4 linked regions of the Homo sapiens genome follow. The protein of the gene in region 4 interacts with the protein of the main gene of each other region in a biochemical or structural test. Each region holds a gene or a part of one and is shown on either strand. Other genes may lie near its edges.

Region 1 (6,437 bases), on a different chromosome or scaffold from region 4:
CTTTGGATCTGCATGTGCATCTGACTGTGCATGGGTAGCCAGGACAGCCTTCTGTGTGTGTACAACTGTATGTGCAAATAACCAGCTCTTGTGGACATACCAGAGTGCATGTCGCCATTGTGGCTGTGTGGTGATGGCATGTGTATGTGACTGTGCAGGATGGCTGTGGGTTATTGTCCTCTTTGAGAAACTGTGTGTGTGTACATGACTAGTGCAGATATATAGTACTGATCTATATGGTACTGTCTGTGTGGCAGTACGTGTGGCTCTGTGTGACCATCTTCTCTGTATGTGGTTCTTGCGTTGCCATCTTCTGTTTTGGAAGTGTGCAAGCACCTCTCTTTGGCACTATGTATATAAAACCCTGTATCTTGTGTATGTGTGTCCCACGTTTGACCCTGGGGTATGTGTGTGTGAGGACATGTCTCTGTCTCTCTGTTTTTCATGTCACTCTCTTGACGTGTCAGTCTGTCTCATGTCCCCATCTGTCCCTTTTTTTTTTTTTTTGAAATGGAGTCTTGCTCTGTCACCCAGGCTAGAGTGCAGTGGTGCAATCTCGGCTCACTGCCAGCTCCGCCTCCTGGGTTCATGCCATTCTCCTGCCTCAGCCTCCTGCGTAGCTGGGACTACAGGCTCCCGCCACCACGTCTGGCTAATTTTTTGTATTTTTAGTAGAGACAGGGTTTCACTGTGTTAGCCAGGATGGTCTCAATCTGACCTCATGATCTGCCCGCCTCGGCCTCCCAAAGTGCTGGGATTACAGGCCTGAGCCACCATGCCCGGCCCCCATCTGTCCCTTTCTGCCATCTCCATGTCTCTAAGTCTGCATCTATTTCTTCTACCTCTGAGTCTGTATTTCTTTTCTTCCCTTCTTCATTTTCAGTCTCTGCTTTTGTGTCTCCTAGTCTCCAGGTTCTGTGTCTCCATCTCTCTGACTTGCATCTCCATGTCTTCATTTGTCCTTTTCTCCATGTCTCTGGGTCGCCATCACTTACTGCCTACCAAAAGCCCCTACCCTCATGCTTATACATCTCTTCTCTCCCTGCCTCAGTTTAACCCAGAACTGGTGCTGGTCTCAGCTGGCTTTGATGCTGCACGGGGGGATCCGCTGGGGGGCTGCCAGGTGTCACCTGAGGGTTATGCCCACCTCACCCACCTGCTGATGGGCCTTGCCAGTGGCCGCATTATCCTTATCCTAGAGGTAACTTTCTCTTGGTCCCTCTTCCCACAGTGGGAGGGTAGTTTGGAAATGTTGGCACCATCACTCAGGACAGTTTCCTGAAATCTCCTTTGAGTGTCCCTGCCTGGGATTGTTGGCACATACTGGGTAGTAATAAGAATAACAGCAACATTAACAGCCTTAATTGAGTGCTCACTATGTGCAGAGCACTCTTCTGAGCACCTCATGTGTCTTATTCATTCAGTTACTTGGCAAAGCAGCCTTATGAGGTAGGGTAAGCTTACCTCATTTTCCTCTCTGAAGATCAGGGAAACTGAGGCACAAAGAGGTGTGATGACTAGCCTGAGATGGCACATTTACTGATGGCAGAACCAGGACTTGAACCCATGCAGCCTGGCTCCAGGGTTTGTGCTTTTTACTCTACCTGAACTGCCTCTAACAAGTTCCTGGGACAAAGGAAATTCACTGACCTTTGTAAATGACTCAGTATCCCCACGCCCTGTGCCTCAGTTTCCTCATCTTTATGAGGCAGGCTAATCATGGAGGAATGCCTGGCATATGGTAAATGCTGGATCTTTTGGATCTGGTTTTTTGTTGTTGTTGTTGTTGTTGTTGTTTGTGAGACAAGAGTCTCGCTCTGTCACCCAGGCTAGTCTGCAGTGGCATGATCTCAGCTCACTGCAGCCTCCACCTCCCGGCTTCAAGTGATCCTCCCACCTCAGCCTCCTGAGTCGCTGGGATTACAGGCACCCGCCACCACGCCCAGCTAATTTTTGTATTTTTAGTAGAGATGGGGTTTCACCATGTTGGTCAGGCTGGTCTTGAGCTCCTGGCCTCAAGAAATCCACCCACCTTAGCCTCCCAGAGTGCTGGAATTACAGGCATGAGCCACCGCACCTGGCCCCTGGTTACTGTTATGCGTTGTTCAGATATTAACCCACTCAGCAACCTTCTGTGCTCTTATTTTCTTTTTCTTTTTCTTTTTTTTTTTGAGACGTTGTCTTGCTCTGTCGCCCAGGCTAGAGTGCAGTGGTGCGATTGTGGCTCACTGGGTTCAAGCAGTTCTCTGCCTCAGCCTCCTGAGTAGCTAGGATTACAGGTGCCTGCCACCACACCCAGCTAATTTTTTTGTATTTTTAGTAGAGACGGGGTTTCACCATGTTGGCCAGGCTGGTGTTGAACTCCTGACCTCGTGATCCACCTGCCTCAGCCTCCCAAAGTGTTGGGATTACAGGCATGAGCTACCATACCTGCCTCTTTTTTTTTTTTTTTTTTTTTTTCCTTTTGAGACAGAGTCTCGCCGTGTCACCCAGGCTGGAGTGCAATGGCGCTATCTCGGCTCACTGCAGCCTCTATCTCCCAGGCTCGAGCAAGCAATTCTCATGCCTCAGCCTCCCGAGTAGCTGGGACTACAGGCGCATGCCACCACGCCTGGCTAATTTTTGTATTTTTAGTAGAGACGGGGGTTTCACCATGTTGGCCAGGCTGGCCTCAAACTCCTGACCTCAGGTAACCTTCCCGCCTCGGCCTCCCAAAGTGCTGGGATTATAGGGGTGAGCCACCGCGCCCAGCCTGTGCTGTTATTTTCACCACTTTACAGATGAGGAAAATAAGTCACTGAGAAATTAATTGGCTTGCAAAAAGTCGCACTTACTATGTGCCCAGTACTGCTTGTGACAGGACACGGTGGGAGTTAAGAACACAGATGACTCCATCAGAGAGCCCAAGTTCAAACCCCAGTGCTGCCTCTTCAGCTGTTATGACCTCGGACAAGTCATCTAACCACTCTGAGCCTCAGTTTCTTTATCTGTAAAAAGAATAGCAACTGGGATTCCTGTAGAGTGTAAAAAAAGTCAATACAGGAGTCCATGTGGAGAAAGAGTCCAGTTGTTCCTGTACTAGGTCAGGGCAGGGGCTTTTGTATGGGTTCACAGCAGTCGTCTTGTGCAGGTCAGGTCAGTGGTTACTGTATGATGTGAGGCCAGGGGTTCCTGGACAGTGTGAAGACGGATTTCTGTATGGCATGAAGGCAAGTTCCTGTATAGATTGAGCGCCTGTGGTTGTGAGGATTGAGTTAATATGCATGAAGTACTTAAAATCGGGTCTGGCACACAGCAAACAATAAATGTCAGCTGTTACTAATGCTTTTATCAGTATTGTTATCTTGCACTTTACATCACAATTTACTCCCCACAACAACCACCTTACACAGTGGGTGCTGCCTATCTTAAAGGTGTGGGTTCTGTTCACTTGTTCTCAGTACTCCCCCTCCCTCTCCAGACTTGCAGGGCTCAGTAGGGAGGATTGGGGAGGCAGGACATGTTGTCCTCCAAATTCCCCAATGAACCCCCACCATACCTTTCCCTCCCCTTTTCCTTAACAAAGGGTGGCTATAACCTGACATCCATCTCAGAGTCCATGGCTGCCTGCACTCGCTCCCTCCTTGGAGACCCACCACCCCTGCTGACCCTGCCACGGCCCCCACTATCAGGGGCCCTGGCCTCAATCACTGAGACCATCCAAGTCCATCGCAGATACTGGCGCAGCTTACGGGTCATGAGTGAGTGGATTTGGGGGTGATGGGGGGAACCCAGGGAAGGAGGGGGCTGAGGGGCAGAGATCAGAGGCAGGAAGGGTGACAGTACCCACACTCAAGGATCTCCCTCCCTGGTTCCAGAGGTAGAAGACAGAGAAGGACCCTCCAGTTCTAAGTTGGTCACCAAGAAGGCACCCCAACCAGCCAAACCTAGGTTAGCTGAGCGGATGACCACACGAGAAAAGAAGGTTCTGGAAGCAGGCATGGGGAAAGTCACCTCGGCATCATTTGGGGAAGAGTCCACTCCAGGCCAGACTAACTCAGAGACAGCTGTGGTGGCCCTCACTCAGGACCAGCCCTCAGAGGCAGCCACAGGGGGAGCCACTCTGGCCCAGACCATTTCTGAGGCAGCCATTGGGGGAGCCATGCTGGGCCAGACCACCTCAGAGGAGGCTGTCGGGGGAGCCACTCCGGACCAGACCACCTCAGAGGAGACTGTGGGAGGAGCCATTCTGGACCAGACCACCTCAGAGGATGCTGTTGGGGGAGCCACGCTGGGCCAGACTACCTCAGAGGAGGCTGTAGGAGGAGCTACACTGGCCCAGACCACCTCGGAGGCAGCCATGGAGGGAGCCACACTGGACCAGACTACGTCAGAGGAGGCTCCAGGGGGCACCGAGCTGATCCAAACTCCTCTAGCCTCGAGCACAGACCACCAGACCCCCCCAACCTCACCTGTGCAGGGAACTACACCCCAGATATCTCCCAGTACACTGATTGGGAGTCTCAGGACCTTGGAGCTAGGCAGCGAATCTCAGGTAAGGCTCACCACACCCAGGTAGGGGCAAGAAGGGGCAAGAATCGGGCTTCTCTGATACATCTCTTACTTCTGCGTGTCCAGGGGGCCTCAGAATCTCAGGCCCCAGGAGAGGAGAACCTACTAGGAGAGGCAGCTGGAGGTCAGGACATGGCTGATTCGATGCTGATGCAGGGATCTAGGGGCCTCACTGATCAGGTGAGCTCAGGGAGAGGCTGGGACTGTGGCTTCCTTCTCTTGCCAATTTGTGTCTCCAGGTAGGAGCATGTGATGAATAAACATATAATGGGGAGATGGGGTCTTCAGCTTACCTAGTTTCACCCACCCACTCCAGGCCATATTTTATGCTGTGACACCACTGCCCTGGTGTCCCCATTTGGTGGCAGTATGCCCCATACCTGCAGCAGGCCTAGACGTGACCCAACCTTGTGGGGACTGTGGAACAATCCAAGAGAATTGGGTGTGTCTCTCTTGCTATCAGGTATGGAGCAGAGGAAGGGGATGGGGCGGAGGTTGGCCCGGGAGCAAACTGCAGGGGGATGCTGACCCCCACCTGACACTCACACCCCCAACCTCAGGTCTACTGTGGTCGTTACATCAATGGCCACATGCTCCAACACCATGGAAATTCTGGACACCCGCTGGTCCTCAGCTACATCGACCTGTCAGCCTGGTGTTACTACTGTCAGGCCTATGTCCACCACCAGGTGGGCCCTGGGTAGACCCTTCGACACGTGCACACTCACCCCCCACACACACACCCCTTCTGTGATTGGGTAAAGGGAGACCACAGGCCCCTCTGCATGGCTGCCTCATGTGATTATTTTGCATGGGGCGGGGGCTGTGGGATAGTCCAGAAGACAGAGTGGTTGAGGGCTGGAGTGGGGGCAGCCCTGCAGCCGAGGTAGAGGGGTCCTCACTCTCTCTCACCTGCCCTATTCTTGCCTCCTCCTCAGGCTCTCCTAGATGTGAAGAACATCGCCCACCAGAACAAGTTTGGGGAGGATATGCCCCACCCACACTAAGCCCCAGAATACGGTCCCTCTTCACCTTCTGAGGCCCACGATAGACCAGCTGTAGCTCATTCCAGCCTGTACCTTGGATGAGGGGTAGCCTCCCACTGCATCCCATCCTGAATATCCTTTGCAACTCCCCAAGAGTGCTTATTTAAGTGTTAATACTTTTAAGAGAACTGCGACGATTAATTGTGGATCTCCCCCTGCCCATTGCCTGCTTGAGGGGCACCACTACTCCAGCCCAGAAGGAAAGGGGGGCAGCTCAGTGGCCCCAAGAGGGAGCTGATATCATGAGGATAACATTGGCGGGAGGGGAGTTAACTGGCAGGCATGGCAAGGTTGCATATGTAATAAAGTACAAGCTGTTAAAAAACCTGGAGAAAGCTTTTTGACTTTGAGCAGGTGGAGAACCCCACATCCCTGGCCAGCAGAGCCGATGAGTAATGAAGGAATGAGGGAGTGGGTCTCTGTCAGGTCAATCCCCTGCCCATCCATTGCCCCCAAAAAACTAACTGAAAATAGAGCAGCCATCTTGACTGGCTCCACGGGATATAAAATGGTAGAATCCATGAGAAAATGGGTGCTTGCCTTATAAATAGGAGCCTCACAGCCAGTCCCAGCCACACCCACACCCTAGGCTGAGAAGGCAAGAAAACTAGCAGGAAGTATCCTTACCAGGCCTGTTTCCCCACTGTCTCATTGGCCTGACTGGGGATGGTGGGAGGTCCAGGTTTAACTTGAATGTGGTGGTCATGGTAGCTTCTTGGCAGAAGGGGTGCCTGCCATTGACCACAGGTGGGAAATTGGAGGACAGTCTGAGAGCTGAATTTCTCCCACGTGGTGAGAATTGCTTTGGCAGCTCAAGGGAGTTGGATCTGAGGTTTCCAG
Region 2 (7,027 bases), on a different chromosome or scaffold from region 4:
TGTGAACTGTGGGGTGTGTTAGGAAGTATGTCAAGAAAATAGCTGGTTGTGCTTCAGAGAATATGGAATTTAGGTATATTTGGGAGAGACATTCTGTTTGAGATACTATGGATGGAGGCAACAAACGATGTTTTACAAGTGAGCTTTAAATATTACGGTATCAAATGCTCTGAACTAGGGAGGGGTTCAAGTATTTGTGACCAAAAGAGCAAACTGTGATCTGTTACAGGACTGGTAAGCTACAACCCTGGGGCCGAAGCAAACAGCCATGTTTTTTTCTTATTGGAACACACTCACGCTCATTCATTTATGTATTGTCTATAGCTGCTTTCAGCCTCGAGTAGGTGCAAGAGACCATATGCCTTCAAAAGCAGAACTATTTACTACCTGGCCATTTACAGAAAGTTTGCCAACCTCTAGTCCATTAGATAACTGTCATCAAACTTCTCGGTGCCATTCCCACCACCTCCATGGGAGGAGTATACTTCCTGGTCCCATTAAAGTTAGGCTTGACCTTCACTTGCTTTGGTCAGTGTGAAAAAGCTGGCCTTCAGAGTCCTGACTAACCAATGTCCCTCCAACAGAATGAGAAAGGTGCAGCAAAAGCCAACCAATACATGAGACTGTTATACCTCTGCACAAGCATTCTCACAGAGGTTTGACTTCTCTGATTGATGACACTGGGAAAAGGATCCTGAAAGCCAGATACAGTTCAGTTCCTCCTGGGCTCTACTTCAGACCTTGATGGGCTTAACCTCTGTTCATCCTCTACATATGGTAAGCAACACTGAGCCAGAGTCCAGGCCAGGCCTAGAGGCCTATCATGCTGTCTTAGAACCTTCTCTTTAACATGGTGTAGAAACCACTCACAAGTCTTTCAGCTGTTGATTTAAACATCATCCTCCTGAGGTAAGCCTCAAGGTCTAGAAAGAGGATGGGACAGTCCACTTGGAGCTACAGGGCAAAGCTTTTCCAGTATAGCTTCACCTCAATAAAACTCATAGTTTGGCTCCCACTCAGCTCCAAAATGTGTATTTCTTTTTTATTTATTATTTTTTGAGATGGAGCCTTGCTCTGTCGCCCAGGCTAGAGTACAGTGGCACGGTCTTGGCTCACCGCAACCTCCACCTCATGGGTTCAAGCGATTTCTCCTGCCTCAGCCTCCCAAGTAGCTGAGATGCGCCCGCCACCACGCCCAGCTAATTTTTATATTTTTAGTAGAGACGGGGTTTGACCATCTTGGCCAGGCTGGTCTCAAACTCCTGATCTCGTGATCCACCTGCCTCGGCCTCCCAAAGTGCTGGGATTACAGGCGCGAGCCACTGCGCCCAGCCCAAAATGTGTATTTCTTAATTGATTATATAATCTGTAAGGGGTAAAATGACTCATCATGACTAGCTCTCCAGAAACCTCAGAGTAAATAGTAGCATGCAAATGATACAAAAATCTAAGAATTTAATCCTGTTAATATTGGTAGCTGAGTTGAAATGACCAGAGTATACACACAACCTTTAAAAATGTGATTTCAGCCGGGCGCAGTGGCTCACGCCTGTAATCCCAATGCTTTGTGAGGTCAAGGCGGGCAGATCATGAGGTCAGGAGTTCAAGACTAGCCTGGCCAACATGGTGAAACCCTCTCTCTACTAAAAATATAAAAATTAGCCAGGTGTGGTGGCACGTGCCTGTAATCCCAGCTACTCAGGAGGCTGAGACGGAAGAATGGCTGGAATCCGGGAGGCAGAGGCTGTAGTGAGCTGAGCTGCGTCACTGTACTCCAGCCTGGGCGACAGAATAAGACTCCATCTTGGGGGGGAAAAGTGATTTCGCAGAATTTAGTCTGACTTCTCAAATAGTTAAAATACAAATGAAGCATTTAATTGCCACTTTTCTTGAAATCATCTAGGTTGGTAACACCAGTGGTCCACTTATTCCATAAAGATATGAAGAGTCTACAAATTTGTCACTGAGAACCCAGAAACTGCCACTGATCCACAGTATTTGCTCAATATGTAATTTCTGAATGAACAGATTCAGACTATGTGCAATTACTTAAAAATAGTGAAGGTTAAATAAGTTAATACACATAAAGAACTTAGTGTCTAATAATAAACATTAATAAACTGAATTTTTACAAAATGAGGTCAGATTTAGATTAGAGATTAGAGAAGACTTTACAAATCTGCCTTAAACTGACCTTGGAAAAACAGGTGAGAACTGGATAGAAAGCATGTACCAGATGAGGGTATTAATGAAAGCACAGGAATAAGCATAGTATTTAAGTATATAAGGAAAAGTAGGCTGACAATAAGGCTAAGAGTATAGTAAAGTACTAAAATCAACACTTGTTCAACTGGAATTGTTGGACTAATTCCAAAGGACATTTATCTTTTCACAATGATGAAGTAATAGCCTTAAGTCTATTGCTATGAGATGAACAGGATGTGATCAAAGTTTATCCATTAGATTGAAGACACCTCAAGACTCACTCAACTTTGGACCCTTAAGTTCTATAACTTCGTAGGAACAAGAATTCATTAGCTATGCTGAATCAATTCTAATTACCATTTAACTATATCAACACCAAACCAGTATCAAAATGTTTTAAGACAAATTTAAAACAAACTTAACTTTATTTCCTCACTTTCACTTAAAACTTGATTTTATAAAACACATGAAAAAACATTTTTAAGAGTTCTGTATCACAGAACATTAAACAGTACAAATATCCATTGCTTCATAGGTTCAAGTTACATAAATTAAAGTCAAATAATTGGAAACTGATTCAATAGGGAAAACTATACATGAAATGAAGGTCAAAAGGAGCTATACAGCAATATTTCATTGTTTATAGATTATGAGTTACTTTCAGGACCTTAACAAAGATTCTGAATATTTAGACTTCCTTTGTTGTATTTTATACTTAAATATCTCCCTACCTATACTGAGTCAAACTACTTGACCAAAACATCTGATTTAGGAAAGCATCTAGCTTTATAGCACAAGTTTTTCCATCTACAGTTACTATCTTCAAAGGAATATACATCACAATGTTGACAAAAAAACCTCCTGGTTCCTTTTGAACAATGTGCAATAAATTCATGATGTTAACTCCATGGTAAGTCAAATAGGTACCAAAAAAATAAAAGGAACAATTACACACAGTTCAGTAAGTATCATTTTGGTTTTCTCCATGTAAAAATTAACCAATGAAATAAAACATATCAACTATAGATGACTTGATTTCAGGAAAACCACATTTCAAAATTACAATTACATTATTTTCCTCATGTCATCCTCAGTCATTGACAGGAATTTTGTAGGCCACCATGCTATTTACTTTGTGGATTGTAGTAGTAAATGAACGAAGGCGGACTTCCTCAGAATTGGTAATAAACTGTGGTCCCGACTCTTCCCATTTTTCAGGTACAACCAAATCTTTGTCTGTATAAATCAGCAGATCAAATGAACCTAAATTGGGGATAAGATCATTGAAGTATATTATTTTCTAAAAGTAAAACTAATCTTGCTGCCTCTCTTCTATTTTGAACCACTCACTGCTGGAAAAGGTCATTTGGCTTGGTCTCCAATCACTAGTTAATTTATTTTGCTCAATGAACATTTATTTCAGTAAAGAAAATATTGTATCTAACTTCCGTGCAATTTAGTGATTGTGTTCAAGTAACCCTTATCTTATTTAATAATGGTCCCAAAGCACAAGAATAGTGATGCCAGCATATTGTTATAATTGTTCCAGTTTATTATTAACTCTTACTATGCTTAATTTACATATTAAATTTTATCATAGGTATGTATGCATAAGAAAAAAACATTATATAGGGTTCATACTATCCATGGTTTCAGGTATTCACTGTGGGTCTCCCTGTGGAAAGGGAGACTACGATACATTACTTTTGCATGATAATGTTTTTCCTTCAATTTATATTACATAAATCTGATAAATAAGACAAAATTTAATAAAGGGGTGATTACGGCAGTAGCTTAGTCTTTTTGCCAATCAATTTAATTCAACAAGAAGTTGTATAATACTTACAAGAAACTTCCAACAGTGGCAGAAATGTCACCGTAGCTGTGATCTGTCTGATCACTGAACGGATTTCATCCTGGATAGCTTTCTGAGACTTTTCTCTGGGTGCACTGTCAAAAAAAAATCAAATCAATTAATTCATTTCAGGTCTTAACAAATTATTTCAAACATAGTGGTTAGATTATTTATCTGATTAAATGCTCTCAACATCAAATAAGCAGGGCTTATTTGAGAAAGGAGGTTTGTAAAAAATGTGAGTGAAAGTATCCTTCAGACCTACAACCTAGTAGGCACAACATTCATCCTTATTACTTCATTTATCCTGCCAGTCATCTTTTAGAGCTGGTCTTAGTGTCAGGTCATTTAGTATCAGATGACTAGAAAATTTGCCAATCACTTCAAGTTCAGGAAACTTCAGCATCTCTTGAAATAAAAATAAGTGATATCTAAAATATGTATTGGTATAATCATTTCAGCATTTTTAGTAATGCCTAAATGTCTAATTTCCTATTTTCTCAAATAAAACATTAAATTGTATATCAAATTATTTTATAAGCTAAAAATTTCCTAAAATACACCAAAGCCTTCAGAAGCAAACTACATTTCACTATAAGAAATGGTTCTCAGTTTATAGAAGAGCATGCCTAGGACAATGCATTTCTCTTCCAGGGAGTCTGGAACCTTCAGAAATTTATGAAGTGTCTTAGGAAGTAGATGGCATTAAAGGAAGTACAGCAGAGCTACATCTTAAATTGTGTGAGTCTAATATCATTCCTTATAGTTAAAAATATCTTAGAACAATTATTAAATGGTTCATCTAGTATATCATGTGTAGTTTTGTATATATCACCATAAATACTGTTTGAAAACTACTGATTTAGACTAAAGGCAATTATGTTAAAATTATATTATATATACAAATCAATGATATGCTAAACTGAGCACAATTCTTTTCCATAGGTGACTGAGGATATCTTAGAAAATATAAATTAGAAACAAACTATATTTTATATAAAACTAGTTCAATACAATTAGAACTCAATTAGTAATAAAAACAAGTTTTGAAAAAAAATATATCAAAGTAGAAATAATGTAATTCCTATTTACCTGTCATCTTTTGCAGTCTTGTCACACTCAATATCAAACTGCCATCTTTCCAGGACCTCACCACTTTCAATATTTGAGATAACTACAACCAGTTTCTGAACTGAACACTTGTATAACCAATCTGCAACATATAAAAAGGAAGGCATCTTTCTTGGTCCACTGCATCATAAAGTAGCTCTCTTCTCGGGTCCCACTCCCTATCCTCAGCAAATTCCTACCACTGCTATCTGGGACCTCCTCCTATGTGCAAGAAAATTTGCACCATCAATAATCTAACTTCTGTTTTCAAATTCTCAGTATCTGTATCAGGTACAGTAATTGGTGCTGAGGACAGAATACTGAACATGTGGTAGTTTCATCCTAATCCAACATAAAAGCATAGGAGATGGGCATTAATCTACTCATCACACCAATAAATGAGAAATTATCATTGTAATGGCTGCTATGAAAGAAAGATGTAAGATGCAATGAGAGCATAAAAAAAGGAAAATTTGAGCCACTCAGGGAGGTCAGAAAAGGTCTGAGTTTAGCTCTAGGGATAAACAGCATTAAATATGCAAAAGGATACGAAAGAAGATACAGGCCTCAAATACTGCCAAGGGAAGAGCATATAGAGGGCTGGAAGCAGCCCACTACAAGTGCAATCAAGAAACAAACAAACAAAATAAAACAAAGTAATCCTTGCAAGATTAACAGGAGCCAGACCATGCAAAGCCTGGTGGATCAAATTAAAAAAATATATACTTCAAGACCAGGGAAGTCATTACTGTGTGTGAACAGGATGTAAAGCAATTAGACTTGTATTTCAAAACTATCATTCTAGCCGTGATACGGAAAGTGGACTGGAGATGTTAAAGAGGGGATCTAGAGACACTAGTTAGTCAATCAGTAATTCAAGCAAGAGTTAATGAAAGCTTGTAGGAGGATAAACTGGTAGATATGGAGCAATAGGTAGATTTAAGAGATTTCATGGTTAAAACGTATTGGGTTTAGTCACGATAGTAAGGAAGAAGCATGATTCAGGGACAGCTTCCAAGTTTCTTTTATTTCTGGCTGGACGGTTTAGTCATTCATTGAGAGAAAAAAAGAGAATTAAAGAGTATCAGTCTTGGAGATGATCCTAAATTTAGTTTTTAGTATACTTGAGTGTACATTGTCTCTGGGATAGCTACATAAAGATATAGCTGCTGGATATATGAGTCTGGAGAAAGAGGCTTGGGATAGATGTAAGTTTGTGAGCTGACTACACAGAGGTTGTTAGTGAAGCTATACACAGGTCAGAGATCACCTATAGAGAAATTATAAACACAGAACGGGGGCTCAGATTGAGCCTTGAAGTAATCTTGGAAATTGAAACAGCATATTCAGGAGTCAGCGAAGTTTTTGTAAAGAAACAGAGTAATTACTAAATATTTTAGGCTTATTGGCCACCAAGATCTCTGTTGCTTATTTTTAAACAAACCTGTAAGTGTAAAAACACTCTTAGCTTGTGGGCAGTGCAAAAACAGGCCACTTGTTGGATGTGGCCTGTGGGCCTTGTGATCCCTGGCATTTATCAACAACTTTTTATTAGTTTCACTCTGAAAAGGAGACTGGGTGGTAATTTGCTCTTCCTTTAAAACTGGAGAGATGAAACCAATGGGGATAATTAAAATCAAAACACAGAAGCAGAAAATATAAGAGAGAACAGGATAAAGACCCTGAAAAAGGCTAGAGGAAATTACATTCAAAACAAAACAATTGGCCAGCAAAACAAAACATGAGCAGCCACTCATGCCTGTAATCCCAGCACTTTGGGAGGCAGAGGTGGGTGGATCACGAGGTCAGGAGTTCGACACCAGCCTGGCCAAGATGGTGAAACCCTGTCTCTAGTAA
Region 3 (7,027 bases), on a different chromosome or scaffold from region 4:
AAAATAGTAATTCAAAACTAATGAGCTAGTGAGTACCAGGTGTCTCCTGCTTGTATCACTCACTCATTCACTCAAACATGCACCAAGTGCCTACCATATGATAGGCATGGAGTTCCCACCTGCTCGGAAGTTACACCAGGAAATAGTGCTTGCAAGTCTTGAGTCCTCACTTTGCCACTTACCTACCAGTGACAGCTCTAATAAGTCCTTCAACCTCAAAGCCTCAATTTTCTCTTTTATAAAATGAAGATAATACCTGCCCTACCTATCTTAAGAGGACGCTCACAGAGGATCAAATAAGCCAATGTAAAAAGGCCCAGAGCACCTAGGACACAGAGCACACAGATACTTACTTGGACCTCAGTTCTCTGCCAGTGATGTGCAATCGGGTCTCCAACAAGTTTTTCCTATCCTGTTAAAAATAAGACAAAGTAAAACGTACTTGAATTTAACCCATTTTGGAGAGATTACCCTGTGAAATCAGAAAAGCTGACGGCAGAGGATATAAACTGAGTTCACTGTTAAAAACTAAAATGCTGCCTGCCTAGAAGTCTACTGAACATAACCCAGCACAGGCTGACCCTGTGACCTGCACGTCCTCAAGGGGGCGGCAGCGTGGCACCACCAGGCAGGGCTGCTCAGAGGGGCCGTCTCACACAGCTGGACGTCTTTAACATTTCAGAACATTTCCACCATCCCTCAAAGAAACACCATGGCCTGCACCCCATTCCCTCCCCTTTGCCCCCCAGCCCCTGGCAACCACTAATCCATTTTCTGCTGCTACAGATTTGCCTATTCCGGACATTTCATATAAATGGGATAGTGCAGTACGTGGCCTTTTGTGTCTGGCTTCTTCCCTGAGCATCATGTTTTCAGGTGCACCCACGTTGTGGACGCATCAGCACTTCATTCCTTTGCATTGTGAACAGTTTTCCATCGTATGAATAGACCACATTTATCTATCCCTTCATCTGTTGATGGACATTTGGACTATTTCCATCTCTCAGCTACTGAATAGTGTTGCTATGACCATTCATGTATGAGGTTTTACATATTAATATATATGTGGGCGGCAAGCCACCCAGGTGCCAAGGCAAGAGACCGAGGGCACAAATTGTTCCAGTATAATAAAGAAAATATATAGAATAAGAATAGTTACACTAGAAATAGATTATAGATATGATTATATATGAATATCATTATTAGTTTGTAGTATTACTCTTTATTTCAATATTACAATAATCTTTGTTCTACAATTATAACCTAGGAAAAACCAGGCCACACAGAGATAGGAGCTGAAGGGACACAGTGAGAAGTGACCAGAAGACAAGTGTGAGCCCTCTGTTATGCCCGAACAGGGCCACTAGAGGGCTCCCTCGTCTAGCGGTAACTCCAGTGCCCGGAAAGGCCCTCGTTACTTAGCAGACCTTGGTCTAGCGGTAGCGCCAGTGCCTGGGAAGGCACCTGTTACTTAGCAGACTGGGAAAGGGAGCCTCTCCCTGGGGTAGTTAGAGAAGACTCTGCTCCACCACCTCTTGTGGAAGGCCTGACATTAGTCAGGCCCGCCCACAGCCATCCAGAGGCCTAAACGTCTCCCTGTGACGCTGTGCTTCAGTGGTCCCGCTCCTGTTTCACTTTCATGTTCCGCTCTGTACACCTGGCTCCGCCTTCTAGATAGCAGCAGCAGAAAGTGAAAGTATTAACGTCTTTGATCTTTCTGAGAAGAGCATAGAAGAAATAATGACGTAAGCTGTCCTCTCTCTCCGCCTCGTCTACCTACAAGGGAAAGGCCCCCTGTCCGGTGGACACATGACTCCTGTGACCTTATCAATCATTGGAGATGACTCACAGTCCTTACCCTGCCCCTTCTGCCTTGTATCCAATAAATAACAGCACAGCCAGGCATTCGGGGCCACTACCGGTTTCCGCGTCTAGGTGGTAGTGGTCCTCCGGGCCCAACTGTCTTTTCTTCTATCTCTTTGTCTTGTGTGTTTATTTCTACGATCTCTTGTCTCCGCACATGAGGAGAAAAACCACAGACCCAGTAGGGCTGGAGCCTATGCTCTTATTTCTTCTGAGAGTGCTGGCATCGATCAGTCCCAAGAGGCTCTGGGTGCCTTGCCACAGTGACATTTCTAGATGCAAACTACCTGGCCATGGCAATGAGAGGAGGTGACCCCACCCAGATCTCCTCGGCCCTGCTTGAGAGCACTCAGCGGACTGCCCTCTGACCTCTACTGGAACAGGAAAAGGATGAAGCCTTCTGTGCTGTGTCCTCCTGCACAGGCTTCTAGGAAACTTGGGAATCCTTTATTCCCCATTATTTCTCAACGTTCACACGCTAGAAAGGATCAGAATGTGACATACAGCTCTGTGGCATTTTAGAAGCCCAAGAGGGTCTCTAAAAGCCTACCTTGGGAATGTTCCAGTTTAAGAATTTGTAACATTGACTTTCAAGCTGATAAATTGTTCAATATGTAAAGTCACTTAAAAGAATTCTGACTTTGGATTGTAACTTTCCAAACAACAACAATTTATTTGACCTCATCACTAACTGGACATTAGTGCCTACTCAAATTTAGGGAAATTACTCACTTTTTTTAGTCTTGGTGGTAAAAACACCTCGATTGTAGCAATTCCCGTTGTTCTATAATTGTCATTTCCTGTTCCACGCTCAATTGCCTTGCAACGTATTTCTTCTATTACCTTTTCTACTTCATTTTCACAGCATTCTAGTCTGTCAGAGTACTGCTTAGCAAGGTCCTATCAAGAAAAATCAGAAAATGCAATACTGACTTAAAAAAAAAAAGGCAAAATATAGAAAAGGGCATGAAAGACTCTAAGGCCATCAACTCTGATGAGTGGAGGTCGCCCCGTTACACTGCAGTCCACACTGTGGTTTGACATCTTGAGAGGTGTGGAGTTTAGAGAGGCCAGGAAAAAGTGAAAACACTTATTTGAGACTGGGCGCGGTGGCTCATGCCTGTAATCCCAGCACTTTGGGAGGCCGAGGCAGGCGCATCACTTGAGGTGATGAGTTTGGGACCAGCCTGGCCAACATGGTGAAACCCCATAACTACTTAAATACAAAAATTAGCTGGGCATGGTGGCGTGTGCCTGTAGGCCCAGCTACTTGGGGGGCTGAGGCAGGAGAATCGCTTGAACCCAGGAGGCAGAGGCTGCAGTGAGCCAAGATTGTGCCACTGTACTCCACCCTGGGTGACAGAGCAAGACTCCGCCTCAAAAAAAAAAAAAAAAAAAAAAAAGCAAAAAGCAAAAAACAAAAACATTTATTTGATAAATGTTTTCTACCTACAAATAGTAAAATAATAATAATAATAGAGAATCTTCTAAGGAGAAGAAAAGGGTGGGCTATGACTTATGTGACTGTGATCTATTTAAAAAGTATAATGAACTGTTCAACTCCACTGGAAGGGAAAATGAAAAAAAAACCCAGAAAATATTCCAATTTTTCAAACTTGTGAGAACAAATCAAGTTGGACTTAAACAATTCTCTTAATGAAAATCTGTGAATCATGGGTACTAGTTGTAAAACTATTTGTAAGGGAGAGCTTTAGAATTGAGAAAAAAAAGAAGATTGAAAGGGCTCAAGAAAGGATGGGAACCAGTTATTACTGAGAGCAAAGTCATTATGGTTCCTCCCCAAAAAAATCCAGATGAGTATCTCTAATCTAAAAATCTGAAATCGCCAAAATTCAGCATCTGGAGATGCTCAAAGGAAATGCACACTGAAGTATTTTGAATTTTGAATTTTCAGATTAGGATGCCCAACTAGTAGGTATAAAGCAAACATTCCAAAATCCAAACACACTTCCAGTCCCAAATATTTCAGTTACGGGATACTCCTCTCAATCTGTATCTGCATGTGAGGTTAATGTTTCATTAAACATCTCATAAAACAGTAAACACTTCAAAAAACCCTAAAGGTCAAGGTTTCATTAAATTCATAATGTAATACCATGTAGTACGTAAAAATTATGGTGTAAGCATAAATTTATGACAGAAGAGATGTTCATGATAAAAGTGAAGTTGGAAAACTTTATAGATATGAGTATAGATTGGGCGCGATGGCTCATGCCTGTAATCCCAGCACTTTGGAAGGCAAGGTGAGAGGATTGCTCAAGCCCAGGACTTCAAGACCAACCTGGGCAACAAAGTGAAACCCCGTCTCTACAAAAACTAAAAATATATTAGCCAGGCATGGTGGCATGCACCTGTAGTCCCAGCTACTCCCAAGGCTGAGGTGGGAGAATCACTTGAGCCCAGGAGTGTGAGGCTGCAATGAACTATGGCCATGCCATTGCACTCCAGCCTGGGCAACAGATCAAGACCTTGTCTCAAAAAAAAAGGAAAAAAAATTTTGTAAGTAACATAAACCTATATATACTTTTTTTTTCTTTTAGAGACGGGGTCTCACTACGTTGCCCAGGCTGGAGTGCAGTGGCTATTCACAGGTGGGACCATAGCATACTACAGTCTCCAACTCCCGGGTTCAAGTGATCCTCCTGCCTTAGCCTCCTGAGTAGCTGGGACTACAGGCATGCGCCACTGTGTCCAGCAATACATTTTTTTAATAGTTACGTAGGAAAAGAGGAAGAATATACCTATGTTAACGATGTTTAACATATTTTAAAAATACATTCTTTATATTTTTGTATTTATATACATACTTTTTAAAACCTAGAATATATATTATAAATACTTTTTTAAAAACTTTCTATAATTTTCTAGAAAACCTAACTAGTGAGGATTTCTTTCTTCCTCCTGTCACCAGCCAATTCTGACACCAACTGGAAGTCCTACGATTCAATTCTGACACTAACTACCCAGAGTTAGCGTTAGACTCCACAGGTTTAAGGGCTCAGCCCACAAAAAAGCCCTAACTTCAGATACCAGTTACCAAGTATCTGGTCCCCAGGTTACCCATACTTTTGTCTGACTTAGCTACAAAGTCGAGGGTTCACACAAGCACCCCCTTCAGGTTCCATGATTTGCTAGAACAACTCACAGAACTCCAGAAAATGGTATACTTATGAATATAGTTCATTACAAAGGATACAAATAACCATTCACATGAAGAGGTACTAAGGCAAGGTCTGGAAGGGTCCTGAGCATAGAAGCCTCTGTCCCATGGAGTTGGGGGTGTACATCCCGACATGTGGATGTGTTCACCAATTTGGAAGCTGTCCAAAATCTGTCACTTAGGGGTTTGTATGGAAGTTTCATTATGCAGGCCTGATTAAATCACTGACCATTAGTATTAGTCATCAGCTCAATCTCCCCTTCCCAGAGGTTGGAGGGGAGGGTGGAAAGTTTCAAGTGTCTAATCACGGCTTGGTACTTTTGGTGACCAGCCCCATCCTGAAGCTATCTAGGGGCAACCAAGCCTCATGAGCACAAAGGTTGCTCCTATCATGCTTACCACTTAGGAAATCCCAAGAGTTTTGGCTCTGCCAGGAACCAGGGACAAAGGTCAAATATTTTTCCTTTATGCCACACCTAGTTTCTAAACCAAGAGACTGTAACAATAAATTCAGAAGCAAGGTCAGAAGGTGGGTTGCAAAGAAAAAGTGAGGCCTGCCTGGAACAGAAGAAACAGAAGAACTAGGACCCTAATACAGTTTGTCACCTCCCAAGCACATCATTATGTCACAACACAGAGCAATTTAATGCCTCATGACAATCCTTAGTCCCTGATAAATGTTACATCATGTTCAGGATACTCTGAATGAGAGCAGAGAAGTACATGCTAGGAAATTCCAGTATGATAGATTTCTGGCAAAAATGAGTACTGTTTCTCTGCTTAGAAAAGCAAGCAGACTTCAGTTTCTAGAAACATCACTTACATACAATATCATTTCTGATGATGCCATGAAAAACTGAGATACAACTGTTAGAAAAAACCTATTTTGGAAAAATGAACACTGATAGTGAGAGCATCAAAAAAACTGGGGGAAAAAGGAGCAATTGTTTCACAGCAGATGATGATAGCAAGGAGGACCGAGAATGAGCCAAGACACTGTCACTTTGAACACACAATGCAATTACTTACTGGCACCAATACTGTTCCACTAATGGGTCAAAATGAGTTCCAGATAAATAATGTTATGTAATCCTGTGATGGTATTAAAAATATATGCCTGAAAAATTAGATAACATCCTCATGTGAATAAAATATTAATGAACAAAAATAAGGTTGTCAGTTCCTAGTAAAAAGTGGGTACCCGCTCACCACTAATGCTTTTGGTTATGCCAAAAGTTTATATGGTCATGCCTGACAATTCAGAATCTTATTTACCAAGGAGATTTATAATGCTGCTAATTATTGATGTCTTAAAAGAAAAATACCTTTAATGCCAAACCAACTTTTTTATTTTCATCTGTATATGGAGGTTTCCAAAGTTGAATCCTGTCTTCCCTTAAAAACTGGGTCAATTTTGCTTGAAGATATTTCTTTTGTGCCATCCCTGAAAGCAAAACAATACATTAATAAAACTCCACATCGCATTTTAAAATGTTAATAACTTACCTACATGTTAAGGTGCTTTGTTGGGTAAGCAAAGCTCCCTTCCTCTGTCATTAAATATAAATTACTATGGTTTAAATGAGCTCCAGACTTCTCTAAAAATATATATAGAAATATATGTTCAATTATATATATTACATATATAAAATATGTATTTCAAAGTTGCTAATATGTAGCAAGGATTATTACATGTTTCTATTTCTTAATCTGCTATTCTCTTATCTAAGAGAAAAGAGAAAATAAGAGAAAGATAAATCCCTCGAGTCGTGAACTTCTTTTTTTCTTTTTTGAGACGGAGTCTCGCTCTGTCGCCCAGGCTGGAGTGCAGTGGTGCGATCTCGGCTCACTGCAAGCTCCGCCCCCTGGGTTCAAGCAATTCCCCTGCATCAGCCTCCCTACTCACTGGGATTACAGGCATGCGCCACCACGCCCGGCTAATTTTCATATTTTTAGTAGAGACGGGGTTTCGCCATGTTGGCC
Region 4 (7,574 bases):
TAAAAAAAAACCAAAAGAGTACTAATAGGATAAGTTCCTAGAAGCAGAATTGCTGAGCTAGAGGATATGAACATGAAAAATTTTAAATTATATTTTTATTATAATCTTTGATACTACAGATAAATAAATGTAACCCATATAGAATAATATAATGTAACACTATAAAACATAATAGTAGCATAATGAACACTCATGGTTTTTACATTTTTATAAGAGCCTTATTGCTTACATATGTAGTTCTAGATACTATATTCAGTTTTGCTTATGTTTAGTTTTCTTTGGAACATTTGTTTTAGATATTATTACTTTACCTTTAATAAAGTGAATATACGGTATGTCTCTCAAGTAATAAATTGCTTTAACAAACATTAAGTTCTCTTGGTTAAACTTCAGATTCTGAATATGGCAAGATGAAATAATATCAGGGCTTCTAATGCCCTCTTACTTCCTGTTGAAAATCTCCTTCAAGTAGCTTATATCAAAATTTAGATTGGGCTTCATTTTTGTTAAAAAGCAGACATATCCTGAATTTCAAGTAGTTCCTCTTTTTCTCTGTCTCACTATGTAGTTTTGCTTGCTTTTGAGATTTATGGAGAGTATCATACTTTATGTAGTCTTACTCATCTTGCTTTTGTTAGATATAGTGAACTCCAAGATTCTCTTCAAAGAATCAGTATGTCAGCATATTCATCTCTCTTATTCTTTGATTCTCCATTTGAAAGTTGAGCTTCCGGGTTCTCTTCACCCTCTTGCCTCTAGTTTCAGTAAACAACTTTCCTGTCAGTTCTAATCAGTGGTTCATATCTGTTCCCCTGGTCACCTGCTCCATCCGGAGTCACCCTCGGCCACCTGCTTTGATTTGAATCATCCTGAGTCACCTGTTCTGTAACCACCCTTCCCACCAAACTACCCACCCTGCCGCTCTGGCTCATACCCCTGCTCTCTTTAAAATAGCCAATCGGAATTAGCTTAGATTGTGTGGTCCAAACCTAGCCAATAGGGGAACGACACAGCAGTAGGGGCTACCTGCCTCAGGAATAAGAACTCCTTCCCCTCCCTTGTCCAGGTATGCTCTTGCCATTACTCCATCCGCGAGTCACACCCTTCTATAGAAGTAAAAATTCCTTGCTGAGAAAATTGAATTTATGTCTGAGTGCTATTTCTTTGCGGCACCGTGGAATAAGCATTTGTTTCTAACACTTTTTTCACTCAATAGGTTCTAGCACATTCATCTGTATCGTTGTTTGCAGGTATGATCCTTCTATTTATGCTGCTTATGATATTCTACAATTTGGTTACCTATTTCCCTAATACTGATAGGCATTTGGTTGTCTTGGTTTGGTATGTCCATGTTAAATTTTGGTAGGTATTTTCAAACTGTTCTTCTTTGAGTGTAGACTTTTTTCCCAATCACCAATAAATGAGAATTCACACTAGCTTTCTGACTGAGTTTGGTTGGCATTTTTGAAGCAATATTCTAGATCTCAAAGCAGTTTAGAAACTCTTTCATGGACGTTATTAAAGAGACTAGAAAGAGACATCTGTTCCAAGTAGGCTTCAAGTAGGCTTCAATGGGGGCAGTGACAGGCCCAAGAGCATCCCGTCAGCCAGGGCCACATTGGGACACTCGTAGATAACCGCCACAATTGTTTTATAACTTGGCAAGATCTTCATACCATCATCTTTTTACTTTTGTTACTGGAAAGGGATCCTGATCCAGCCCCCAAGAGAGCGTTATTGGATCTTGCACAAGAAAGAATTCAGGGTGAATCCATAGAGTAAACTGAAAGCAAGCGTATTAAGAAAGTAAAGGAAAAAAAGAATGGCTACTTTATAGGCAGAGCAGCCCTGAGGGCTGCTGGTTGACTATTTTTATGGTTATTTCTTGATTATATACTAAACAAGGGGTGGCTTATTCACAAGTTTTCCAGGAAAGAAGTGGGAAATTCCTGGAACTGAGGGTTCCTCCTCTTTTTAGACCATATAGAGTAACTTCTGGACATTGCCATGGCATCTGTAAACTGCCATGGCCCTGGTGGGAATATTTTTTAGCATGTTAATGTTTTATTTAGCATATAATGAGCAGTGAGAATGACCAGAAGTCACTTTCGTTGCCATCTTGGTTTTGGTGGGTTTTGGCTGGCTTCTTTACTGCTTCCTTTTATTTGCAAGGTCTTTATAACCTGTACTTTGTGCTGATCTCCTCTCTCATCCTGTGACTTAGAATGCCTAACTTCCTGGGAATGCAGCCTAGTAGATGTCAGCCTTATTTTATCCAGCCCCTATTCAAGATGGAGTTGCTCTGGTTCAAACACCTCTGACACTTTAGTTGGTTTTCTGAATTTGTCAGAGGGGTAAATGATGTAGTTTGGATGTTTGTACTCTCCAGATCTCATGTTGAAATGTGACCCCCAGTGTTGGAAATGGGCCCACTGGGAGATGTTTGGGTTGTGGTGGCAGATCCCTCATGAATGGCCTGGGGCTGTCATCATTGTAATAAATGAGTTCTCACTCCATTAGCTCACAAGAGAGCTGGTTGTTTAAAAGAGCCTGGCATTTTTCCCACTGTCTCTTACCTCCCTCTCTTGCCATGTGACACGCCTGCTCTCCTTCACCTTCCACCATGAGTAAAAGCTTCTTGAGGCCTCACCAGAAGCAGATGCTGGTGCCATACTTCTTGTATAGTTGGAGGAACTATGAATCAATTAAACTTTTTTTCCTTATAAATTACCCAGCCTCAAGTATTCCTTTATAGTATGCAAAAGAGACTAAAACAGCAAATGAAAAGAGATCTGTCTCTGAAAGAACTTATTGTGACATAGAGAGAGACAGAAAAAAGTCAGATTGACACTGGGTAAGAAGCAAGGAGGTCAGGTCCCAAGATGAAGTCCTGCCTGTGGTCAGCAAAGGGGCACCAAGGTGTCTGGGACAGTCCTGGCCCTGGCTTTGGGCAGGGAGGGAATTTCCCATAGGAAGGGAAGAGTAAAGAGAGAGAGAGAGGTCAGAGTCCAGGTTTGTTGTTCATATGTTTTCTTGAAAGGGCACTATTTCCCAGAATCCAGGTCATCTCTGGGTAGGGAATCCCCTGAATTAGTTTTTTCTGAGAGTATATTAGATTTGCCCTCACAGTAACCCCATGCTGGAAATACCCAACTCCAGTAGCACTTTTCTCCCTGCCTTTTCCCACTGAAATAACATAATAATATAGGAAGAATACAAGGACTATAGAAATACAGATTAGTGTTTGAACCCTTGCTTACCAGCTACTACTAATATGATTGTGGATGAGGTAGCTTCTTACTTATTAACGGGGATACTAATAGAGGTGGTTCCTTACAATGATTCCATTTATGATTTTTTATTTAATAGTGATACCAAAGCAATACATACTCAGTAGAAACCTACTTCAAGTTCCCATAAAATCATCTGCTTTTCACTTTCAGTACAGTATTTAATAACTTAAATGAGATATTTCACACTTCAGTAGTAAATACACTTTTTGTTAGATAATTTTGTCCAACTGTATGCTAATGTAAGTGTTCTGAGCATGTTTAAGGCAGGTTAGGTTAAGCTATGATGTTTGGTGGGTTAGGTGTATTAAATGCATTTCTGATTTTGGATATTTTCAGTGTACAATGGGTTTACAGGGATGTAACCCCATCATAAGTGAAGGAGCACCTGTACTTACTTCATTAAAATGCTGAAACAGTAAATAAGGTAACATTTAATAATATGTTGTGCAGTTCTTGAAATTTAAGTACTCACCAAATATTACTTTTCCTTTTTTTGTTATTTACTTACTTTTCATTCATTTATTAATTCATTTGTGCATTTAGTAAACATTTATAAATTATTTCCTGTGCCTGACAGCATGCTGGAACAGTGCTAAAGATACAAGTTAATTAAGACACAATCACGACCCCCAAGATTCCTACTCTTTTCTAAAGATTACAGACAAGCAGACGATGCTATTGTTGAAGAAACATGCTCTGAGAGGCATTTGAAGGAAGTGTAGAGGATAGAAGATGGACACATAACCCAGGATGGGGAGGAAAAGAGTTAGGGAAGGCTTTTTGACGAAGATACTGTTTACACCGTGTGTTCTTATAAATTCATGGTGGTGGGGATAGAGTTGGAGGAAAAGGCATGCTCAGTGGCGTGGAGATGGCAGAGAGATTGGGGTGTTCAAGGATATGCCGGGAATTCAAGGAACGAGAATTCCCATAGACACAGACACAGCTAGACATAGAGATCTGCAGCTTAGGTTTGGGCTGTGGGTATAGATCCAGGTGGCTTCAACAGACAAAGATCTTTCCTGAGAAAAGGGAAAAGTTTTCAACACAGAAAGACCATCCCATGTTTGGAATGAGGTTTGCAAATAGATTGCTTGAGGAGAGAAGTATGTGATCAGAAAGCATTCTTTGTCTATTAACTCCTGCCCAGCAAAAGTGAAAGAAAATTCATGGGAGCATGCAAGAACAAAGAGCACAGCAAAGCTGGACAAACACAGCAATCCAGGCAGGGGATTTCCAACTCAACTCTGGTATATAAGCTGCATGCAAAGTCCTTTTTCTGTCTCTGGTTTCTGGCCCCTTGTCTGCAGAGATGGCTCCCAATGCTTCCTGCCTCTGTGTAAGTTGGGATTTGATAAAGGGGATGGGGAAAGGAAAAGCACTTTCAAGAGTTGGGGAGAGATCTTAGAAACGGGGGCTGGGCAGTACTCAGGGCTCTGGGGGGCTGGGCAGGCATCCTTCAGGAGAAGAGGCTGGCATTGACATTTGCAGAATGGGAAGAGGGATTGTCTGAAGAGAAGCTGGTTATCTGGCTTCTGTGTTCTTTTTTAAATAAAACATTGGACTAGCTACTCTTAGGGATAAATGGTAGAAGAAAAAGTGGGGGTGAGCTTTGTGTTCCACAGGGCTGGTGAGATTTGAAATTATGGTAACATTTTTTAAGGTTCTTAAACTTAATCTTCCCTCTCCTCTCAAAGGAGAGCTTCACAAAACTCATTCATCTGAAGTTGTTAATGATCTAACACATTACATTATATAAGAAAATATGCACTATGGAGAGAACCTGGAATTAAGGCAATGCTTAACACAGATCTTCCAGTGAAGAAATGTCTGCAATATCTAGATTGGGAAAATATTTCTGAATGGAGTATGAGGGAGGTCTTCTCAGGCTTTCAAGTGGCCATTAGGGGTGAGTTTTCCCATCTTTTAGGATTTTCCAGCTATTGAAGTAAGACTTAGATATAGTCCCTACCTTCTGTGAGTGAGGCCCTAGTCTTATCAAAGGAGATCACATTCTATATTAGTGTTACCAGGGGGTCTTTGCTCCCAGAGCTCTCAAGATGGTGGTGGGCTGCTTCCAAAATGGCCGCAGGCCGCTTCCAAGATGGTGGCAAGCCTCGTGTTCTCTGACCTGGGGTTCTTGGCCTCATGGATTCCAAGGAATGGAATCTTGGGTCATGTGGTGGTTGTTACAGCTCTATTAGAAGCCATGGGTCACGGAAGAGAACCGTGGACCCAGTGACTAGTGTTCAGCTCGATTAGGAAGAACCTGGGCACTTAGCCGTGCAGAACAATGGTACGCCTTTAGCCCAATCAGGAGCGGCAATGGGCGCCTCACTGGTTCAGAAGCACAGCGGACACCCTGCCAGATCCGAGGGATGGAAGTCAGCCGCGGGTCTGCGACGGTGGCAAACGGCAGTGGTGGATGGCAAGCGAAAGCTCACCTCGAGCCGTAAGAAACATAGACCAGAAGAGTGCAGTTGCAAGATTTAGTAGAGTGAAGACAGAGCTCCCATACAAAGGGAGGGGACCCAAAGAGGGTAGCGTTGCTGGCTCGAATGCCTGTGTTTATATCCCGATCATTGTCCCTCCCGCTGTGATCTCAGGCAATAGATGATTGGCTATATCTTTACCTCCTGTTTTTGCCTAATTAGCATTTTAGTGAGCTCTCTTTACTACCTGATTGGTCAGGTGTGAGCTAAGTTGCAAGCCCCGTGTTTAAAGGTGGATGCAGTCACCTCCCCAGCTAGGCTTAGGGATTCTTAGTCGGCCTAGGAAATCCAGCTAGTCCTGTCTCTCATTAGATAGAAATAAAAACACAAGAAATATAAATTAACAAGAAACACTGAACATAGTGTCACGGTAGTATGTGAGTTATTATTATAAAGCAGTGGGATATTTGAAAAGAAACTAACAGTTCAGTGATTATGTGTCCTACCCAGGATTTCCTTCTGAAGTATTGACAGAGGGTATCCTATGGCTATGAGTATCTTCATGAGGCTGTCATATTTTGGAAATTCTCTTTGAGAGTTGTTTTTAGAGTCTGATGTACATCTTTTGAAGCCTCGTATTTACTTGTTGACATTTGACAAACTTTATCTGGATAGGAGAGGCAGGTAAATAAGGTGGAAAATCACTAATTACATTTTGAGATGGATAAAGGTATGTTTTTTACATCCATTGAAATGCACAGAAAAACGAAATGTAAAGATTGTCAACTAAAAAAAATCACACAATTCATAAATTTAGAAGGGGAGTTTATTTCTTATGAAAGGTTATAGTCTGCAAGGTAGCCATTCTGACAGGCTGGGAAGTTTTGCTTCTGATTGAAAACCAAAAGCAAGCACTTTGCAGGAGGAAAGGTGACACAGGAATTTATGCTGAAGGGGTTTGCTAAGTATACATATCCAATAGGTTATAGCAGAGGCAATGAATATTCATGGAGGGGGTCCTAATGCATGCATATTGAATAAGCTTGCATGTTACATACCACCCATGGTCACTCTGAAGTGGAGACTTAACATTTAATTGCATTACAGTTAGGCCTTATACATGAAAAGGTGAAGCAGGGACACAAAGGCATTCAAATGCACAGCTTCTGTAAACTAGCCAGAACCAGTCCATGGTCAGTGGTCTCTTATCAGGAGAAAATTACTGAAATCAGTCTTTTGTCCAATTAAAACTGTAGTTATGGCTTGTGGAACACGGGGTCAGTTAGCCTGTGTTCCCCAACACAGGGTGAGCTGTAATTGTTTTAATATTGTTCCTGTCAAGGCCAGTGCTTGTTTAGCTGCTAGAGAAAAAAGAAAAAACTTTGTGGCAGAACATAGTTTATTCTTTAAGTGTAAGGGATGCATGACTTAACTTTTGCCTGTTATAGCCCTCGGTCTTGTTTATAATTTGCTATCTTATTGCCACAAAGAATCCATTCTCTCAGTCTTATAATCTCTAACTTTGCTGGTCAGTTGTGTCTAAACTGCAAAAGGGAGAAGATACAATGAGGCATATCCAACCTCCTGTTCCATCATGACTGAATGTTTTATTTATTTATATTTTTGAGACAGAGTCTCACTCTGTTGCCCTGGCTGGAGTGCAGTAGTGCCATCTCCACTCACTGCAACCTCTGCCTCCTGGATTCAAATGATTCTCCTGCCTCAGCCTCCTGAGTAGCTGGGATTACAGGGACTTGCCACCACTACTGGCTAATTTTTGTATTTTTAGTAGAGACAGAGTTTCACCAAGTTCACCAGGCTGGTCTCGAACTCCCAGCATCAATTGATC

Evidence for each region.
Region 1: the proteins of UBD (region 4) and HDAC6 form a complex in vitro, tested with the Homo sapiens proteins (2 studies listed by BioGRID, with this or other methods).
Region 2: the proteins of UBD (region 4) and MAD2L1 form a complex in vitro, tested with the Homo sapiens proteins (2 studies listed by BioGRID).
Region 3: the proteins of UBD (region 4) and NUB1 form a complex in vitro, tested with the Homo sapiens proteins (6 studies listed by BioGRID, with this or other methods).

The regions. Positions count from the first base shown.
Region 1 is NC_000023.11:48,819,055-48,825,491, forward strand, and holds the end of HDAC6 (protein deacetylase HDAC6), read left to right. Parts: intron 1-1,051; coding exon 1,052-1,201; intron 1,202-3,130; exon of another isoform or gene 3,131-3,209; intron 3,210-3,565; coding exon 3,566-3,740; intron 3,741-3,857; coding exon 3,858-4,534; intron 4,535-4,617; coding exon 4,618-4,731; intron 4,732-4,867; coding exon 4,868-5,014; intron 5,015-5,111; coding exon 5,112-5,240; intron 5,241-5,489; coding exon 5,490-5,558; 3' UTR 5,559-5,922; downstream 5,923-6,437.
Region 2 is NC_000004.12:120,056,823-120,063,849, forward strand, and holds part of MAD2L1 (mitotic spindle assembly checkpoint protein MAD2A), read right to left. Parts: intron 5,274-7,027; coding exon 5,153-5,273; intron 4,156-5,152; coding exon 4,052-4,155; intron 3,469-4,051; coding exon 3,296-3,468; 3' UTR 1-3,295. UniProt on the Homo sapiens protein: Component of the spindle-assembly checkpoint that prevents the onset of anaphase until all chromosomes are properly aligned at the metaphase plate.
Region 3 is NC_000007.14:151,344,809-151,351,835, reverse strand, and holds part of NUB1 (NEDD8 ultimate buster 1), read right to left. Parts: intron 6,489-7,027; 5' UTR 6,487-6,488; coding exon 6,370-6,486; intron 2,764-6,369; coding exon 2,596-2,763; intron 413-2,595; coding exon 354-412; intron 1-353. UniProt on the Homo sapiens protein: Specific down-regulator of the NEDD8 conjugation system. Recruits NEDD8, UBD, and their conjugates to the proteasome for degradation. Isoform 1 promotes the degradation of NEDD8 more efficiently than isoform 2.
Region 4 is NC_000006.12:29,556,733-29,564,306, reverse strand, and holds the start of UBD (ubiquitin D), read left to right. Parts: upstream 1-4,574; 5' UTR 4,575-4,605; coding exon 4,606-4,632; intron 4,633-6,533; exon of another isoform or gene 6,534-7,574. UniProt on the Homo sapiens protein: Ubiquitin-like protein modifier which can be covalently attached to target proteins and subsequently leads to their degradation by the 26S proteasome, in a NUB1-dependent manner.